Linked DNA regions of Homo sapiens. The protein of the gene in region 1 interacts with the protein of each later gene in a pairwise test. Each region holds a gene or a part of one and is shown in the gene's direction. Other genes may lie near its edges.

What was found.
Region 2: the proteins of CD300E (region 1) and STX8 interact in binary tests that used the Homo sapiens proteins (3 or more experiments, as listed by UniProt).
Region 3: the proteins of CD300E (region 1) and CTXN3 interact in binary tests that used the Homo sapiens proteins (3 or more experiments, as listed by UniProt).

What each region holds. Positions count from the first base shown.
Region 1 is NC_000017.11:74,620,673-74,627,598, reverse strand, and holds the start of CD300E (CMRF35-like molecule 2 precursor), read left to right. Parts: upstream 1-3,860; 5' UTR 3,861-3,977; coding exon 3,978-4,017; intron 4,018-6,926. UniProt on the Homo sapiens protein: Probably acts as an activating receptor.
Region 2 is NC_000017.11:9,565,712-9,572,824, reverse strand, and holds part of STX8 (syntaxin-8), read left to right. Parts: intron 1-2,887; exon of another isoform or gene 2,888-3,269; coding exon of another isoform or gene 3,270-3,327; intron 3,328-4,354; coding exon 4,355-4,454; intron 4,455-7,113. UniProt on the Homo sapiens protein: Vesicle trafficking protein that functions in the early secretory pathway, possibly by mediating retrograde transport from cis-Golgi membranes to the ER.
Region 3 is NC_000005.10:127,652,082-127,659,194, forward strand, and holds the end of CTXN3 (cortexin-3), read left to right. Parts: intron 1-171; exon of another isoform or gene 172-280; intron 281-968; exon of another isoform or gene 969-1,110; intron 1,111-1,235; 5' UTR 1,236-1,342; intron 1,343-5,341; 5' UTR 5,342-5,440; coding exon 5,441-5,686; 3' UTR 5,687-6,549; downstream 6,550-7,113.

The sequences.
Region 1 (6,926 bases):
GCTTCCAATTGCCAGTGGGAACGATTGCTGGTTGCAAGTGGGGAGGGGTCCATCGTCAACGCCAGAGAATGGCAAACTCCTTTTGCCAGGGCCAGCCAGTACAGATTTTAGGTTTTTTGGGCTCTGCGGTCTCTGTCACAACTACTCAACTTGGAATTGTTCCTATAAATTTTATAAAATTAATCAGGGAAGAAGGGAAGGGGAGAAATGAAAATAAACCAAGCTTGCAGCACATTTGGCATTAATCATGAGGTCAGCCTGCTCTCTGTCCTGCTTCTTCATATTTGCTGCCTATTCCCCCAGAATCACACAGACCCGGTTGTAAGACTATAGTCCCCCTTAATTGTACCATAGGTAACATCTTAAGCATTGTGAGACATTAAGTTTTCCATTTGAGATATTTTTACCAGGTCTTGTATACCAGTGAAACTACTGATGCCAGCTGGTCTAGAGGAATCCAAGAGAAGCTGATTCACCAAAGAAGGCTGTTTCCAGATCATGATGATTTCATCCATCCTACCTTGACCAATCAATGATCCCAATTTTCCAGTTACTTGCCCTCTACAATCCCCTTAAAAGTCCCAGCCCAGAACTTCTCAGGGAGATGGATTTGAGGGTCCCTCCCAACTCCTTGCTTGGTTACCCTGTGATCATTAAACTCTTTCTCTGCTGCAAACCCTGTTGTCTTGGTGTATTGGTTTGTTCCAGTGCAATGGGCATATGAACTCGTTGGTCCTGTAACAAACTCTGCTGTTGTAGCATGAAAGCTGCCATAGATAATACATAAATGAACATGTGTAGCTGTATTCCAGTAAAACTTATTTATGTACACTGAAATTTTAGTTTCAGACAATTTTCATGTGTCATGAATTAAAAAAAAAATTCCCACCATTAATAATGTGAAAATGATCATTAGCTCATGGGGTGTATAAAAACACAAGGTGAACTGGAGGTGTGGTTTTGGTGTGTGTTCATCTCTTCCATGGCCCTACAAGTCTCATCATTTGCCAACCTGTTTTATATTGACGTCCTTGTCCACACTCCCACACGATGGGAAGTTGTACTTTGGATCTCACACCCCTGTGTAGTGCAACTTAGGTGCTTGTTCTCATGGAAGGTAACTCCTTATAACTACAGGGAGTGGAGATGCCTTGATACTCCCATGAGCCCATCAATGGGGTCTCCCCTCATCCTGTTCCATGGGCGTAATGACCATTCATGGATCCTAGCTTTTGGCAGGGGGCTCTGCTCCCACTCCCTGTCTTGTGTAGACCTGAGACATTGTCTTCTGTCCCTGAGTGGCTATTTAAACAGCAGCCCCTCTCCTCCTAAGGCCCAAATTCATTTTGACTGGTCCCCATTAGCCTCTTGGTATCAGATCCTGCTCACAGACCTGGCTTTTAGTTCCCTTTACATTTCTAATACCTGGAATTTCCTTTTATTGGATTTGACTTCAGTTTGGAACCAGATGATAGCTTCTGTGTCAACTCGGTCTTACTAGGTGGTCGGAGTTTGGATTTTCTAATTGGATTATAATGAAATGTGCCTATATTAGACATGGTGAGTTTATAGTTTTTCAACCATCAACACATGCCTTTGCTTATTCCCATTTCTTTTATTTTATAAACAACTGTAGGGATAAGATTTTCAAAAAAGGAACCAGAAGAAAACATTATAAAAGCAGAACCAAGAAGGCTGAAGATTTGTTTGGTCCTCTTGGTGGAAAGAACTGAAGCCTGCAACTGTTGTCTCTGCTGAATAAATGGCACAAGGGTTGCTATGGTTTGAATGTTCCCTCAGAAACTCGTGTTGAAACTTAACTGTCAATGTAATGGCATTGGGATGTGAGGTCTTTAAGAGGTGATTAGGCCATGAGAGCTCAGTCCTCCGAGTGGATTAATGCTGTTATCTCCGGAGTGGGTTAGTTATTGTGAGAGTGGTTTCCTGAGAGGCTGAGTTCAGTCCCCTTTTTCTCTCTGTCTAGGAGGCTTGCCTGCTGTCTTGTCTTCTGCCATGGAATGACGCTTGTCAGATGCCACTACGATGCTCTTGGACTTCTCATCTTCAGAAAGCTAGGAAGGTGAACAAATTTGTTCTTTTTTATTATTATTATTTGAGACAGAGTTTCTCTCTGTCGCCCAGGCTGAAATGCAGTGGCGTGATCTTGGCTCACTGCAACTTTCGTCTCCTGGGTTCAAGCAATTCTCCCACCTCAGCCTCCTGAGTAGCTGGGACTACAGGCTCATACCACCATGCAGGGCTAATTTCTGTATTTTTGTTAGAGACAGGGTTTTGCTATGTTGGCCAGGCTGGTCTGAAACTCCTGACCTCAAGTGATCTACGTGCCTCGGCCTCCCAAAGTGCTAGGATTACAGGCATGAGCCACTGCACCTGCCAACTTTTGTTCTTTATAAATTAGCTAGCCTGTAGTATTCTGTTATAGTAGAAGAAAATGGACTAAGACACAATGTTGTGGCTACTGTCAGCTCTGCTCATTCTGGATCCCTCAAGTGTGTGGCTCATGTCACACATGGGACCAGGGTCCTGGTGTTTTATTGTTCCATCCAGGGCTCTATTCTATATATAATCTATCTATCTTTCTTTCTTTCTTTTTCTTTCTTTCTTTCATCTTTCTTTCTTTTTTTTTTAGATGGAGTCTCTCTCTGTTGCCAGGCTGGAGTGCAATGGTGTGATCTTGGCTCATTGCTTTGCAACCTCCACCTCCTGGGTTCAAGTGATTCTCCTGCCTTGGCCTCCCAAGTAGCTGGGATTACAGGCACGTGCCACCATGCCTGGCTATATAATACTTCATCAGATATGGTGGTACAGAAAAGATAAGAAGTTGTGCTCTTACAACAAAAGTTTGAAATATCAGATGATCCAGTAGAGTTCTAAAAGATAGTAAAGATTAGAGGCTGTGGGTATCAAAGATGGGTATCTCTGGGGAAAGAGAAGGAAAGAAATTATATTTTCAGATAGCTATGTCTTAGAGAAGAGTATCTTCTGATGTGCAAGTTGGATTAGAGAGAATGTATAGCTAGTGGAGGGACCAGATGAGAAGCTATTTCAATGGTCCAGGACTATTCTAAAGGTATTTAATATTAACTGGGCAGTTACTATGTTCCAGGCACTGTATCAAGCACTTTACTTACATTAACTCATTTATTTCCTGTGGCAACCCTTTGAGAAAGAATTGTCATGAGTACTCTATTTTACAGATGAGGAGACTGAGGAGGAGAGTGATTTGGCAACATGCCCAAGGTCAGATGATTAATAAATGATGGAGATGAGATTTGAGTTTGTGTGACTTCAGAATCTATGCTGTTGACCATGACCCATATACTGAACTAGGTTAACAGTGTATAACCAGGTGGAGCTTCCCTATAGGAAGTTAGAAAGTAGGATCTGGAGCCCAGGAGAGATATTGGGATATTGGGTTAGAGGAAGAGGTGTGAAGTCATCCGCATGGAGATAACGGTTGAGAAAGACATGGGGAGTGATCACCACAGCTCCTTAAGTAGAGGGTGTTTTATGATTCAAAAGTAGGCAGCCATAGAGAAGGGAAGCTCCTTAGATCGATGAAGTAATCCCAGATAGGAAGAAGAGTGAAAGAGGCAGGGAACAGAGTTTTCTCTGTTGGAGAGGTTTCGTAAACTGGGACTGACTTTCATGAAATTCCGAGTCATGAAATCTCAGGGGGTGACTCAAACATTACGTTCACATTAAATGAAGGCCAACAGATTTTCCTGTTTGTGCTTGGTCCATTCTCAGAAACGTCTCTTGCCACCCTTTCTCTTCTGCTAAGTAAGGCTTAAAATTAGGAAGCATTCTTTAAAAGGCAAAAGAGGAAATAGATGAGTGAGAACACAAAGGAAACTTGGACAAGTAGAAAGTGGATGACCCAGGCTCCGTTACATATACTTGGATTCCAGCTGGGACCTAGATTTGCTGAGGACGGAAGCCAAGGAGACAGGAACATGTGGCTGCTCCCAGCTCTACTCCTTCTCTGCCTCTCAGGTGAGTGGGGCTGTGGCTTTGGGGACTTGGTTTTGCAGGGGGCAGGACAGTAGGTAGAAGAGCTGTCCTGGGTTCAAACCAGAGGTGAAGTGTCCACAGAAAAGGGAAAGATACATCCGTTCATTCACCTGTGCATCCTTCTATACATTCAATCATTCATCCACGGATCCTACAAACACTTACTGAGCACCAGATATGTGCCAGGACTGTTCTGGGTGCTGTAATTAAGAGTAACTTCTGAACTGAGGGAGTCAACTAACTACAATACAATGTGGAAATTACTGTTGTAGAGACTCATTCATGTGGTGATGAGAGTATGCAACAGGAACCCCTCACTTTGCTCTTGGAAGGGTGGGAGATGTCACTGAGGCTTCATTGGAAGTCCATCCTGCAGGATGAATGAGTTGGCTGAGTGGGAAAGGAATAGCTTATGTGCAAGTGTGAGGACATTAAAGACCATGGAGAGTTCAAGAATTAACAATAGTTCTGTTTTGACGAAGCTTAGTGTAAAGGGGTTGGAATGGTTTGTGAGAAATAATTAATGGGCTGGGCGTGGTGGCTCACGCCTGTAATCCCATCACTTTGGGAGGCCAAGGTGGGTGGATCACCTGAGGTCAGGAGTTTGAGACCAGCCTGGCCAACATGGTGAAACCCTGTCTCTACTAAAAATACAAAAATTAGCTGGGCGTGGTGATGCATGCCTGTAGTCCCAGCTACTAGGGAGGCTGAGGCAGGAGGATCGCTTGAACTTGGGAGGCGGAGGTTGCAGTGAGCCGAGATTGCACCACTGCAGCAGTCTGGCCTGGGTGATAGAGTTGAGATCCTGTCTGAAAAAAAAAAATGCCATCCTCAACATCTACCTTAAATCCTTCCCGGAACAAGGTGTGGTGTAAACAAGTAAATGAAACTGTCCTGCAAAGGTTGGACTTCAGAAGAGAAACTCTTATTAATAGACATTCAAAATACAAAACTGCAGGAAAACACATTTGTCTCTGGGGAAATAAATTTAGGCTAAAAATTAGAGGACATTCTTCATGTTTGCAGAATGAATTTTATGGTTGAGTTCCCTCACAAAACATAGAAATTGCCCAATGTAATGACAAGATTCTTTCTAGAAGGGTGAGTGAAAATGACAGCGATTTAAAGGAAGAAGACCAGGTAGGTGACATGGACCCAAACTCGTGGGCTCAAGCAATCCTCCTCTCTTGACCTCCCAAAGCACTGGGATTACAGGCATGAGCCACTGCACTCAACCAATGTTTGCTCATTTTGTATTTGAATTTGCTTCCTTTTTCTTTGCCCTTTCCATCTCTCTTTCCACCCCTATCTCATTCCCCATCCTCAGACTCGCAATGTGACCTGCGCAGGTCCCTCTGAAAATCTTAACTGGGAAAGAGAGATGGAAAGGGCAATTCTAGCAGGGAGGGGAAATGACAAAGAGGAAGGAAGCAAATTCAAATACAAAATAAGCAAACGTTGGTTGAGTGAGGTGGCTCACACCTGTAATCCCAGTGCTTTGGGAGGTCAAAGCAGGAGGAATGCTTCAGCCCAGGAGTTTGAGATCAGCCTGGGCAACATAGCAAGACCCCATTTCTACAAAAAAAGAAAAGTAAAAAATTTAAAAAGAGCAAAACTAGAATTCTATTTATTACACATTTTTATAACCTATAAACACTTCCAAATAGATGATAGAATTTAACCCTCTGAGCAGTTTTGTGACCCAGGCAGGGCAAATAGCATTGACTCCACTTTATAAATAAGATGATGAAGGGAGATCTGATGACATAAGAACTAAGTAGACAAGCTGGAAATGAAGTCCAGATCTGTGTCCTCCACAGAGCTCTTTCCATTGGCCATGGAGGTGTCAAGAATAAGGCTAACCTAGTAATAGTGACAAAATAGCTGACCTCTCTGCCACATCATCTGGTATTTCCATTCTGAACTGATTGCTGTCCAATATTTAGTAGCTCCCATTAACCTCAAGCAACCAGCAAGCACATGTTTCAACAAATGCACCGACGCATTTATATAATTCCATCAATTATTTCCAGGAACATGCTGGATTTCCTTGAGAAATGCTAATCTTGCATTCAGGTAACACTCTAGCAGGACAGAGGAAAGTATCTTGGAATTAGCATAACCTTCTTTTTCCTTAACTTCAGGTGCCCAGAATTAGATCATGGGTCATGGAACACTCTCTCATCACTGGTCCATTCAAGACCCTCTTTTATTTTAATTATATGTAACTTAACAAACATCTGTGAGCTCACTGGCCAATCCATGAACTAGAATGTTATCAACAGCATGGATCTACCCACTCCTTCCCAATCCAGTCCTGGTTCTTCTTTCAAACAACAGTAATTTGGTGTCATCTGCCAATACTTTGCATGAAAATTTGCTTTTGTTATATTTTTACATTAAGTAGAAAATTGGGCTAAGCAACCATAAGCCATGCTCTACATCTGAGGGTCTGTGATTTAATCAGCCACACCCCTTATCTCATCTTTTTCTTTCCTCTTCTTCTTCTTCTTTTTTTTTCGAGAGGGAGTCTGGCTCTGTCACCCAGGCTGGAGTGCAGTGGGGTGATCTTGGCTCACTGCAACCTCCGCCAATCAGGTTCAAGCAATTCTCGTGCCTCGGCCTCCCGAGTAGCTGGGGTTACAGGCGTATGCCACCACACCTGGCTAATTTTTGTATTTTTAGTAGAGACAAGATTTCACCATGTTAGCCAGGCTGGTCTCACCTCCAGTGATCCGCTCACCTTGGCCTTTATCTTTTTCTTTAAGCTCACCTATCCAGGCTCTCCCCTCTGCAAGTTGCCTTGCTTTACCTCCATTTTGGAGGTGGCTTTGCTTACTGGGCTTTAGATAGTACTCTTATCCACACTGCTGCCCTACCTCTGAAATATA
Region 2 (7,113 bases), about 65 Mb from region 1:
ATTGGACTATTGAGAGTGAAACAGTGAGACACTCAGCTGTGCTCCCAAAGCACAAAATGGGTCGCTGATTAGGGGGGTAGAAAGGAGTATGGGAAGGGACTTGAAAAACCTATAAAAGGCCAGGTGTGGTGGCTCACACCTGTAATCCTAGCACTTTGGGAGGCTGAGGCAGGCGGATCATAAGGTCAGGAGTTCGAGACCAGCCTGACCAACATGGTGAAACCCCGTCTCTACTAAAAACGCAAAAATTAGCTGGGCATGTTGGTGTGTACCTGTAATCCCAGCTACTCAGGAGGCTGAGGCAGGAGAATCACTTGAACCCAGGAGGTGGAGGTTGCAGTGAGCCGAGATTGCGCCACTGCACTTCAGCCTGGGCGACAGAGCGAGACTCCATGTCAAAACAAAACAAAACAAACAAACAAAAACAACCTATAAAAACAGATTCAACTACAGCTTTACCTTTGTGTTGCTAAAATCATAGGTCATTGGCACCTCCCTCAGTGTCTAGCAATGGAATATAGCAGTTACTATTTTAATGGCCTATCAAAGCAAGTGGTAAGCTCGCTGTTTAACAGAAGGAGCCCATGATCACTGTCTCTGAACTGGCTCTTTGCTAATGTTAATTAGCTTTACCTCCAGGGTAACTAATTTGTTGATGATGTACCATTTCCAGAAAAATTACAGTTAAACCTTAATAGTTTTATATCCTGATTGGACTTTTTATGTTGGTAGCATGGTCTTCTTTGTGTTGAATTGCTTTTTAAAAACTTTATTTTGGAAGGTAAAAGATACACAAACTAGAATAGTATAATGGGCCCCTTTCATACTCACCACCCAATTTCTGTGATTATCAATATTCTGCCATTCTTGTTTCATCTCTACCCTCCACACCTTTTTTTTTTTTAATTTTGAGATGGAGTCTTGCTCCGTCGCCCAGGCTGGAGTGCAGTGGCATGATCTTGGCTCACTGCAACCTCTGCCTCCTGAGTTCAAGTGATTCTCCTATCTCAGCCTCCCGAGTAGCTGGGATTACAAGCACCCGCCACCATGCCCGGCTAATTTTTGTATTTTTAGTAGAGATGGGGTTTTGCCATGTTGGCCAGGCTGGTCTTGAACTCCTGACCTCAGGTGATCACCCGTCTTGGCCTCCCAAAGTGCTGGGATTACAGGTGTGAGCCACTACGCCTATGCCCGGCCCAGATTACTTTTTTTTTTTTTTTTTTTTGAGACAAAGTCTTGCTCTTGTCCCCCAGGCTGGAGTGCGATGGCACAATCTCGGCAAACTGCAACCTCTGCCTCCCGGGTTCCAGCGATTCTCCTGCCTCAGCCACCCCCCGACCCAATTACTTTTTCTAAACTAGTACTTCAGGCACCTGTGTGCTTGATAGTGTAATGAGGTTGTCTATTGCCCCAGGCCAAGGGTTCCCGCCCGGACTTTACCGCAGATTGGAATCACTTGGAGAGCTTTTAAAGCTCCCCACGCACGCCCAGGACAAACCCCATACCAGTTGAGTCAGAATGCTGAGGTTGGGACCAGGCATTGTTATTTTTTTAAAGATTCCCCAGTGATTCCAACTTGTTTCAGAACTATTGCTCTTTAGGGCTAAAATAACAACACAAGGACTGGAGTCAGGACACCTGGGAGTTTGTGCTAGCTGTGTGCATTTCTCATAACCTCTTTAGGGCCACTCTCTGTGTGTAAAAGTGTTCTCTATGGCTCTGAAATTCTCCTTTAAGTCTAACCTTGTTAGACTGGTGTTCAAGGCTCTGCAGAAACTAGCTTCTACTCATCTCTACCATTTTATACTTAACAGGCTTCCAGGGCCACCACGCAGCCAAATGTGCCGGGCACGTTTCCTTCCATTCATCTTTGCTCGCCCTGTCTTTCACTAAGTCTAGAATGTGCTCCTCCCTCCTGTCTGAATAAGAGACCTGCTTTAACTTCGTGGTCATCCAGATGTAACCTCATGGACCCTCTCCATCTGAGTGCCTTGGTCAGCAGTAATCTCTTCCACCTCTGAACTCCAGACGTACTTACCACTTAGATCCCACATTTGGCAGGAGGCAAAACTTACCATATGTGGATGATTTTTATATGTATGGTCTGGACCCCAGAGCCAGACCTAGGCTCCTCTTTTCATGATAATATGGAGGAAAAAAAAGTGAAATGTGGCAAAGTTTGGACCAGGACCCAATTTTCCTTATTAGCCTCCTGTTTTCTTAATTCTGTGTTTTCTTGTATCACTGCTATTTTTCCCTACACACACAAATACATGAATATATATATATGAATGATATACATGTGACATATACGAATATATAGTATATATGATATAAACGATAGGTATGTGATATATATGAATATATGTATCAGTGATATATATGATATATGTGAATGTGTGTGATATATATATGATATATACATGAATGGTGCTGCTTTACAGTATAGTGGTTAGTGGTTCAGGATCCTCTCTCAGGATCCTTATGAAGTTTACAGTGTAAAGCTCTTAGTATAGGACCTGGCTCAGGTCAGGTACTCAGCTGTTACTATTGCTATAATTATTCTAGTAAGATTCCTAAGGGAATTGATGGGCGCATTTTCCTTCATTTAAAAAAAAACACTTATCAAGTTCCCTCAGTGTTCAAATGATATGTGGGAATTGAAAGGTTTTAAAAAATATATTGTTTACTCAAGCAAAAATTAGGACATTAGGGGCAACAGGAGTTTCTGATATTTTGTGATGGACTGGTCCTGGAAGATAATGCTGGTCATGTTAGTCCACAGAGTCTCTGCTTTTTAGGAGCAGACTGTCTGATAGGAGAAATGAAATGTGTATGCATGCTTAAGTATTTTCGTTTTTTTGTTCGTTTGTTTTTTTGAGATGGAGTCTCACAGTGTCGCCGGGCTGGAGTGCAATGGTGTGATCTCAGCTCACTGCAACCTTCGCCTCCTGGGTTCAAGCGATTCTCCTGCCTCAGCCTCCCAAGTAGCTGGGATTACAGGCACCCGCCACCATGCCTGGCTAATTTTTTGTATTTTTAGTTGAGACGGGGTTTCACTATGTTGGCCAGGCTGGTCTCGAACTTCTGACCTCATGATCTGCCCGCCTCGGCCTCCCAAAGTGCTGGGATTACAAGCGTGAGCCACCGCATCCGGTCTGCTTAAGTATTTTCTATATGATAGAAAGTAAAAATGCTCTGAGAGAAGCAAAACATAAGGGGCTATTGGGAGTTCACCGTGAACCCTTCAAAGCCTCCAACGCTGCTGAATGACAACTAGAAGCTTATTAAATGTTTTGAGAGAATTCTGGCAAGCTCAGATGTCAGGTGGGTGTGTGGCCTTTGTCCCCGGAGCATTTGGTTTTAGGCTAGACAATACTTGCTGTTCCTGCACCCTAGAGCCGCCCCCAGGCATCTGCAAGCCCAGCTTCTTCACCTTGCCTCGGTGTCACCTGATCCTAAGTAGCAGCTCCTTATCACTCTCTGTCCCTTTATCCTGCTGCGTTTTTCTTCTTAGCACCTATCAACACCTGACATACTATGTATTTAATTGTTTTATGACTTTCTTTCCTTAAAATATGAGCTCCTTGAAAGAGGGACTGTGTTCATTCTGTTTACTGCCGTCTTCTCCAGTGCCCAGAACAGTGCCCAGTGCAGCGGAGACCCCCCACATGCTTTCTCATTGGCAGAACAGCACAGTTGTTAAGAGCCCCGGCTCTGGGGCCAGACGGCCTTGGTTTGCAGCAGGCAGAACCACTTGGGCAAGTCACTCTAACTCTTTGTGCCTCCTTTTCTCATGTGTGAGTTGGAGATGGTAATGGTACCCACTTCATAGCGTTCCTGTTTTGATTAAGTGAGTTATTACTAACGAAGCCTTCAAAATAGTGCCTGGCACATGGTAAATAACGCTCAGTCCATGTTGCTTTTACTGGTCATGTTATTATTCTTCCCCTCTGTTTGAATTCTTTGGCTAGAATGAAAATGTCAAACTTAGACAATGCAAAAATTTCTTTTAAAGAACCTTAAGGCCAGGTGCAGGGGCTCACGCCTGTAATCCCAGCACTTTGGGAGGCCGAGGGGGCGGATCACGAGGTCAGGAGATCGAGACCATCTTGGCTAACACGGTGAAACCTCATCTCTACTAAAAATACAAAAAATTAGCCAGGCATGATAGCGGGCGCCTGTAGTCCCAGCTACTGGGGAGGCTGAGGCAGGAGAATGGTGCGAACCCAGGAGGCAGAGCTTGCAGTGAGCTGAGATCGTGCCACTGCACTCCAGCCTGGGCGACAGAGCGAGACTCCGTCTCAAAAAAAAAGAACCTTAAACATTTTCTCTTTTTACGACTTTGGTGCAGGTTCTCCACATACGATTCTACTTGTCAAATTGCCCAAGAAATTGCTGAGAAAATTCAACAACGAAATCAATATGAAAGAAAAGGTGAAAAGGCACCAAAGGTAATACCATGAAGGAATTAGTACCCAATGATTTGTTTGAGTTTTGAGGCCTGAAAACCCTCCTATCTTTCTTTGAGGCTGTCTGTGCACATGTGTGTATGATGATCTATCTGCTTACATATGTTGAATTGACATAACACCCAACCAGTTAGTAGTGATGTAATCATTGAGACTAAATGAGGCATAACACATTTAAGTTCTCCTGTTTTACTTTAAATATTTCTAACAATTTTATAGTCTAGTTCAGGGGTTAGTAAACTTCCTACAGATAATAAATCTTTTAGTCTTTGCAGGCCAAGAGATAATGTCTTCAAGTCTTTGAGTTTCCATTCTCACCACAAGAATAGTTATAGTTTTTACATTTTACATTAAAAATGTAAAAACAGGCCAGGCATAGTGGCTCACACCTGTAATCCCAGCACTTTGGGAGGCTGAGGCGGGCAGATTGCTTGAGGTCAAGAATTCGAGACCAGCCTGGGCAACATGGGGAAACCCCATCTCTACTAAAAATATAAAACCTAGCCAGGCGTGGTGGCACACACCTGTAGTCCAGCTACTCAGGAGGCTGAGGCAGGAGAATTGCTTGAACCTGGGAGGTGGAGGCTGCAGTGAGCTAAGATCGTGCCACTGCACTCCCGCCTGGGCAACAGAGTGAGACCCTGTCTCAAAAAAGAAAAAAATGTAAAAACCATCTTTAGTTTTGGGCTGTATAAAAACAGTGGTGGGATTTGGCTAAGAAATAGATTTTTGTGAAATCACAAGTTTATACTTGTGACTATGATTGAAAATAGAAGCCTCTGATTCAAATCTAACACCACACCTTTCTTCCTTATTTTCCACATTCCAAATTTGTATTTTCTTTCTCTCACACTGAGAATCCTAGTTTCCAAAAGCATCAGTATGTTTTTACTCATTTGGTCTATTTTACAGTTTACAGAAAATGGTTTCAAAATTACTATAAGGTACCACGACAAACACTGAGTTCAAAATTTGAGTCTTTTTAAGTGTAGACTAATCTACTAAGAATGCTGAGGTTATTATGTTCCAAAGTTATTAGAATTATTTTTTAACTTTCAAGTTCAGGGGTACATATGTGGGTTTGTTGTATAGGTAAGCTTGTGTTATGGGGATTTGTTGTACACGTTATTTTGTCACCCAGGTATGAAGCCTAGCACTTACTATTTTTCCTAATCCTCTTCCTCCTTCCAGCTTCCTCCCTCTGCTAGGCCCCAGTGTGTGTCATGTCCCCCTATGTATCCATATGTTCTCACCAGTTAGCTCTCTCTTATATCAACAGAGTGAACAAACAACCTACAGAATGTGAGAACATGCGGTATTTGGTTTTCTGTTCCTGCATTAGTTTGCTAAGGATAATGGCCTTCAGCTCCATTCATGTTCCTGCAAAGGACATGATCTCGATCTTTTTTATGGCGGCATAATATTCCATAGTGTATATGTACCACATTTTCTCTGTCTGGTCTACCATTGGTGGGCATCAGGTTGATTCTATGTCTTTTGTTATTGTGAATAGTGCTGCAGTGAACATACACATGCATGTGTCTCTTTTTTTCTCTTTTTTTTTCGAGACGGAGTTTTGCTCTTGTTGCCCAGGCTGGAGTGCAGTGGTGCAATCTCGGCTCACTGCATCCTCTGCCTCCCAGGTTCAAGCCATTCTCCTGCCCCAGCCTCCAGAGTAGCTGGGATTACAAGTGCCTGCCACCATGCCTGGCTAATTTTTGTATTTTTAGTAGAGATGGGGTTTCGCCATGTTGGCCAGGCTTGTCTCGAACACCTGACCTCAGGTGATCCACCCACCTCGGCCTCCCGAAGTGCTGAGATTACAGGTGTGAGCCACCCCACCTGGCCACATGCATGTGTCTTTATGGAAGAATGATTTCTATTCCTTCGGGGATATACCCAATAACGGGATTGCTGAATCAAATAGTATTTCTGTTTTTAGTACGTTGAGGAATTGCCACACCGTCTTCCACAATGACTGAACTGATTTACACTCCCACTAACAGTGTATAAGTGTTCCTTTTGCTCTGCAACCTCCCGAGCATCTGTTATTTTTTGACTTTTTAGTAATAACCATGCTGAGTGGTGTGAGATGGTATCTCATTGTGGTTTCGATTTGCACCTCTCTAATGATCAGTGATGTTGAGCTTTTTTTCCTGTTTTTTTTGGCAGCATGCCTGTCTTCCTTTGAAAAGTGTCTATTCGTGTCCTTTGTCTGCTTTTTAATGGGGTGGATTTTTCTTGTAAATTTGCTTAAGTTCCTTATAGATACTGGCTATTAGATCTTTGTCAGATGGATAGCTTGCAAATATTTTCTCACAATGTGTAGGTTGTTTGTTCACTCTGTGGATAGTTTCCTTTTCTGTGCAGAAGCTCTTTAGTTGATTAGATCCTATTTGTCAATTTTTGCTTTTGTTGCAATTGCTTTTGATGTCTTTGTCCTGAAATCTTTGCCTGTTCTTATGTCCAGAATAGTATTGCCTAGGTTGTCTTCCAGGGTTTTTATAGATTTAGGTTTTACAGTTAAGTCTTTAATCCATCTGAAGTTAATTTTTGCATGTGGTGTAAGGAAGGAGTTCAATTTCTATCTTCTGCACGTGGTAGCCAGTTATCCCAGCACCACTTATTGAATAGGGAATCC
Region 3 (7,113 bases), on another chromosome or scaffold:
TAACTTTCAATTTCTGGCTGATTTTTATATTTCAGATTCCACCCATCAACACGGAGGCCAAGGAAAATTTAATGAGCCAAATAACTTATGGCTCTTCAAATTACAAGATCTGTGGGTTTTAAAGTGTCATTGTGACTTGAACTAGCTGTCTTTCTTTCAAACAAGACTTACTTCAAATGTGATGGTCCAGCACCTCAGTCCGGCTTGATGACTTGTGCTTTTGTTTTTCCTCTCTGCATCAGTTAGCTGGCACCTCGGGTTTTGAATTCAGTTCCCTGGACTGTAAGGGGTTGAAGATTTGATTTAACTTATATTTAAAAAGGCAATGATCCCAGAACAGCAAATAATTCCTCAAGGAGCTTATTGTGTAATAAGGAGGAGATAAACACTGTCAAGACTCGCACTGTAATCAGTGCTGCCACCGAGTACAGGTGATGTCTCTGGAGATGGAGTAAAAAACACCCCATCCTTGGTGAAGGGAAACAAAGAAGGCCCCACCGAGAAGTGGGTATTTGGTGTGAACCCTAAGGGAGGGAGAGATGGAAAGAAGGAGAGGAAAGATGCTTGCCTCATAGTGCTTGCCTCCCCTCCTCTCCACAGATGGAAAGAAGGAGAGGAGGCAAGTATTATGAGGTAGGAAACCTGGAGGTGTTAGAGCACAGCAGGTATTGGATCAAGCTGAAAAACAGACAAAATGAGGACATTCTCCACAGGTGTCCACAGACTCAGTTACACGGAAGTTTATTCTGATCAACACATTGGCCATTTTACTGAGAACTAAATGTGATTTGGTGTTGACTCCTTTCTAAACTTATAAAAATAAAACTCAGATCTTAAAAATTCCATTGTCAGCATAGGTCCTAATCTGTGGTCCGGAAAACATCTGGGCATCAGGCCCACAAGGGGGTTAATGGGCTGTGGACACTGGGGTGCAAAGGTTTTCTGAGGGGAAGAGTGGTGAGATCTGGGCTTAAAAAGATGAATCGAGATGCAGTGTGTAGGAAGCATGGGCAAGGGATGAGGAACGCCACTTTGAAAATTACTAAAACTAAAGCAAGTGACTAAGAGTGTGAATGACCCTGGCTGCAATGACTACGCCTGCTGGGCTTCGTAAGTAATTATGGGTGTCTTCTGTTTTTGTCAGTATCACAAGGGAGCTTGACTCGAGCAAGGGAATGTATTATATGACTTTTGAAAAGGGTATCTTTTAATTAAGGTTTTCTTTAATTTTTCAGTATTAAAATTAGACTCTATTTCCTGAGCACCCACAAATGGACCTGACAAAGGGAAGACACAGATGTACTGCGTGATGAGGAAAGCCTATCAGGATTAAAATATGGCTGTGAGTAACTGTGGTCCTTCTTTATACTTAAAATAGCTGCCATGTGTTATTATGAAGGCTTCTGATGGTGGTATCAAAATCCTTTGAAATAATAGACTTGCACAGATTTCCCTGGTCATCTAAAAGAAAGATGTCATTATTCAGTTAAAAGCAAACTTGCACATTTTCTAAGAATCATTTTTACCAAAAAGGGACATTTTACTGCGAGACAGACATTTAAAAATTTACATGTCTTGAGATATTTTTGTATTGTGGTAGCAAAATGATTACATTTATTTCTTTTTCTCCACCTTATAATAGCTGATGCTTCCTTCAACTTATACATGCTGTTGGAGCTTTCTAAATCGGTAAATTATTGATTAGCTGATTGCAGGTTTAAAATCAAGCAGACTCTTCCAGGGATTTCAATCAGTCCTGGGCAAAATTGTGAATTAGTCAGCATTGGTTTCTGGATCTCTTTATCCCTTTAGCAACCACCTCCTGATTGTCTCTACCCACCATCCCTCATCCCTCCCCTAGGGCTCTCCAGTGGGCCCCCTGTTCACACCACCATGCCTGTCTTCCTGTCCTGTCCAGGAGTCCCTCATTCCCAGCTAGGTCTTCCTTCAATCGCCTTTCTACTTACCACACTTTCCCCTCCTTCAGGTGGGAACGGTCCTCACAAATTCCTGCTAGCACATTAATGTGCCACTTTCCTAGGTAAAATATTGCAATTTAGTAGGAGACGTTGATACTTTGACCAAAAGCAGTTATTTTTATAGGAACTTGGGCACCACAGTGTGCTGGGAGAGGAGAGGATTACAACTCCCAATGTGCTACAGAGTTTTAAAAATTCTTTCACCTCTATTTGCTCATAATTTGGTATATCAGGAAAGGTTTGGTGATGAAGACATTGGAGTATACACATATTTATATTTTAGGAGGCTTCTCAATGCAAAGAGGGTTAACCTTTCCTTTGTACCTTGCCTTTTAATCAGTAGAGGATGGTAAAACTTCAAATTAAAACTGATTTTAAAAATCATTCTAATACTTGGCATCCTCGTGCAGAATCTGAGTCCCAGAGTCATTCCTAGGGTGACTGAAGAGGCAGATATGGCAGATAATCTGAATCAGGATGAATAAGTTATTTGCTGGAATTTCTGGAATGGTTGCCTACCACTGCAGCCCCCAAATGAATGGTTTGCTCGCTGTAAATCCTGAGTTGTGGGTGAAGCCTAGAAAGTATGAGAGTTGATCCAGGAGAGAAGGATTTGGCATTTGCCCTGTATGGAAGAGAAGGCTGGGGAAGACTACTCCTGGGGTCACAATGTTGCTCATCAAGTGGAGATCCCCGGTGGGAAGGGAGGGACTGAGCAAGGTATCACCGTCCTAGTCAGCCTGCTTGTGCTGAGGAGGTCATTCTCAAGGACTCAAAAGGTTCTCTATCTAGTTCTTACCTGAATTTTTGGATTTCACAGATCCAGAAATCCTTACATCAGTTATACAGTTAATGGTCTTTTCTCTTCTTATATTTCCTTTTTGGATTATATGGTGTTTTCCTAAAGAACTTTCTGAAAATGGCCAGGCATGGTGGCTCATGCCTGTAATCCCAGCACTTTGGGAGGCTGAGGTGGGTGGATCACCTGAGGTCAGGAGTTCAAGACCAGCCTGACCAACATGGAGAAACCCCGTCTCTACTAAAAATACAAAATTAGCTGGGCGTGGTGGTGCATGCCTGTAATCCCAGCTACTAGGGAGGCTGAGGCAGGAGAATCACTTGAACCTGGGAGGCGGAGGTTGTGGTGAGCTGAGATCGCACCATTGCACTCCACCTTGGGCAACAAGAGCGAAACTCCGTCTCAAAATAAAAAAAAAGACTTTCTGAAAATGCATACCTGTCTCGGCTTTGTTGAGAATGGACAAAGAACAGGACTCTGGCCTCATTTGGGCTGGATGGAAAAAGGGCATAGAATGAGATTCTGATAATCCTGCAAGGAGAGCAGGAATCAAAGTGAGAGGATCCTCAGTAGGATATGAAAAAGCAAGGAGTATGTCAGGGATGGCCTCAGCATCTGCTCCTCTGTCATCAGCGGGCTTTCCTTTGGCCCAGCCCTTGGAGAATTTTATATTTCATATGATTAAGTATAGTTTGAATATTTTTGGTGGACACAGATGGCCCTGGTCTGATGTGCTGAGGAGACCTGCATTGGAGGCTCTGGCCTCCCTTCCTGCCCCTCCCTTCCTGGCCCACAAGGAATTAATACCCAAGGCTAGGAGGGTGCTTAGAAACAAGCAAACCAAAACAAAACCCAGTGCATTAATATCCTCTAAATTCCTAAAGAGCTTATTTTTTTAAAATGCGGTCAAATTTTTATCCCAATCTTACTTCCAAACAAACATGAATTATAAATGAGTTTTGCAACTGTTATAGCCTTTAAAAAAATTCAAAGTGATAGAGCTGCAAAAATGATGCATTACCCGACTGGTAACTCCTTCCTCCCAGATCCTGGCTGGGATCCCCCTTATAAATTGTTTTTTAAACTGTAATTTTACAAACTTTGAAGTGTCAATATAATGCAAACTGTTATGCTATGATTACTAATGCTGTACTTGAAGGCAATGATTATAAGTTAACTGAAGGAACATTGTATTGATGCTTTAGGTCACATATTCTATTTTTATTTGGTTATTTTCATTGAGCAAAATTTATTTTGTGTCCGTGTTAATTTCCGTAGCTAATTACTGTGCTTTGTAATTTTTATTATAAATAAATTCATAATAAATATCATTTAATTTTCTATATAGTAGTAGTGTCTAATGTATATACTTTTATTTACGATGTGATTTAAGTAGATTTCGTTCAGTATCTGAAGCTTTTAACGACCTCTGTGTATACTTGTCATGTATATACTTGTATATTTATACGGTAATATACACTTGTATATTTATACAGTAATATCTACATATCTAAGTTTTTCCACCAGTAAAATTAAAATAGTGTTAGCTTGTCCTTTTCCTTCTCTTCCTCTCTACTGAATAGTCTTAAATGGTAGGAAGCCACTCTAAGGAAAACTGTCCTTTTGAAAATATGCATCGATCAATTCCTTTCTCTTGGCTTAATTCTCTAGGTGCTTCCCAGGGTCAAGTATTGAACCTGGTCTTTGTTTTCTGAGGAAAAAAGAAAAAGCAGCAGTAACTTGATAGTTTGGGAGACTGAGATACCTCCGTTCTCCCTTGGCTCAGGCAGTAGAAAGGAAAGGAGAAGCAGCATAGCTCCCTTAGTTGTGTCTTAGGTGAAGCAACACTTGGCTTTGTTTGTTTTTCTTTTTTGTATACTTTTCAAAGGGTTTTCACAGCTCTTCATCCTTATTACAGCACCATGAAAGATGCAGGCATTGCTACTTGCATTTTTACAGCTTAGTGACCTCTCCAAGGTCCCACACCCGTTTTGCAGTAGAGTGGAGCCCGGAGCCCAGAACCCAATGCTCCTGGAGAAGGTTTCTATTTTAAGCACCTTTTCTAGCCTCAGTTTCCTTGCACTGGGGCTAAAGAGATCCCTGCTTTCGTGAAGCTTGCAGTAAAGTGGCTAACATGTTTCAAGTTTAGCCACTGTGCTGACACATAGCTGAGGCTCCCTCAATGGCGCTATCGTAAGAACAATGTGAGAGTAATATTAGTGGAGCAGAGCAGGAGGAGACTTGGCAGGGGAGGCTGGGTTCAGATGTCAAGTTGACAGTACACCCTGAGGTCAATATTACTGTGCACATTTCTCATCTTCTATATTATAGTCGTATTCCCTGCCCATCCCTCCTGGCCCCAGGTGGCTCTTCTGAGAACAATCTGGTAATTTCATGCAAGAGTAAAATATCTTTCCCGATAATTATACAGAATTGAGCATCTCTGGTGAAAAAGAAAGCTGGTTTACAGATTTCTTTTTCTCTCTGAAAAATATGACTGTGAACCTAAAAAAATAAGGCTGCTATTTTATAGGTATTCCTTTCCCTTCCTTTTTCCCTGCAGATAACTCAGCCTCTCCAGAGTGCAGCCACCATGACCTCCGCAGATTGATGATGGAAGAAAAGAAAACCAGGATATCCTGTGCTCTGGCTTCCCTGGACCATGGATGGAGGACAGCCCATCCCCTCATCCCTAGTGCCCCTTGGGAACGAATCAGCAGATTCTAGCATGTCCCTGGAGCAGAAAATGACATTTGTTTTTGTGATTCTGTTGTTTATTTTCTTGGGCATTCTCATTGTCCGGTGCTTCCGGATTCTTTTGGATCCATATCGAAGCATGCCAACCTCTACCTGGGCTGATGGACTTGAAGGCCTGGAGAAAGGGCAGTTCGACCATGCCCTTGCTTAGGAGGGATGGTGTGGGATCTCCTCCTGAGGAGATGAAGTGCTTTGTGTCTTGGTGAGGATTCCCTTTATTTAGTGTTCTCAACAAATCAAATTTAAACAATATTTGGTCCCAGGACCATAATCCATTATTCCATAAATATGCAGTTGGGTTAAAGACATTTGAGGATGTTGGAAATGGACACTTATATAACTAATCCAACATAAGAAGGTTTAAATTTTTATGTTTGCTCAATGAATGAGTACTCTTAAAATTGTGTGATTGTGAAACCAAGAGCGTTAATACTGACATAGATTTGCCATCAAACAAAACACCACCTGATCTGACTAAAGAATAAAAGACTAGAAAGGATCTCATATGAATCTGGTGACAAGGCCAGGAAGAGATTTCCTTGCTCTAATTATGTCTATATTTGTTTTATTTCATGGGCACCTATCTGGGTCCTGAGCAGAATGAGGAAGATTGTGCTGAATGGACCCAAAGTAGTTTCTTGTTTTCTCCCAAAGCAGGGAGCTTTGGGAAGCAATGGAAAAGCTTAAAAGAGATGATTCTGTCCTTGGTAAATGTGAGTGAGAATAGCGTTTTGTTTTTCAAGTAAAACTTAATTCAAAGGCTACAAAGTTTTAAAAACTATTTACCAAGCCAACTACATTATATGTATTCATATTAATAACATGTGTAGAGGTAGCTATACATTACTTGAATTTACACTTTACACAAATGATTTAAAAAATAGGTTGCAAGTGCAGCTTAAAGTTTTTTTTCAATGAAAAGTTAATTGTTTAGAGGAGAAGACTTTTATAGTCTTCAGAGGAATGTGTATTTATGATTGTATATAGTCACCAAATAAAACTTTTCAAGAAACAGAAATGCTTCCTCTCTTATTTCACCAGAACTAATGCACTGAGGGTGCTACCTGGTATTAAGTGCTGAGGCTTAACATTTTTCCAAGAGAGGAGAAAAGAGTTAACAGCATGAAAGCTCATCTAATTCATCCCTCTCCCATTTCAAGAAGAGCTCCTATAAATTGTCCTGCACAGACAAAACCGATAGTTTTTAAGACCACCAAAAAGGGAGATGTGAATACCTCTTATTCCAACTTTTGTTGGAAGGAAAAGCTTGTGTCTAAACCAACCCTGCAGATAACTCAGCCTAAACCAACCCCGTTAGGCTGTATTTATAATCTATGTCTTCTAGTTTTCTCCTCAGCTAGTCATTACCTTTTTTGATTAAAAAAAGCACACTTCTTTAACCTATTAATTATAAGATTTTCTTTTTCTTTCAAATGTACTGTGTCATGTGTGTCCTCATTAATTTTTTTTTGTATTTTTGTTAGAGTCTATTCAAACCCACTCATGTATTTATGGAGCTCCTGCTTTGAGCCTGGAATTGCTAGCACTAGAAAGACAGAAAACACACAGGGCCAGTTC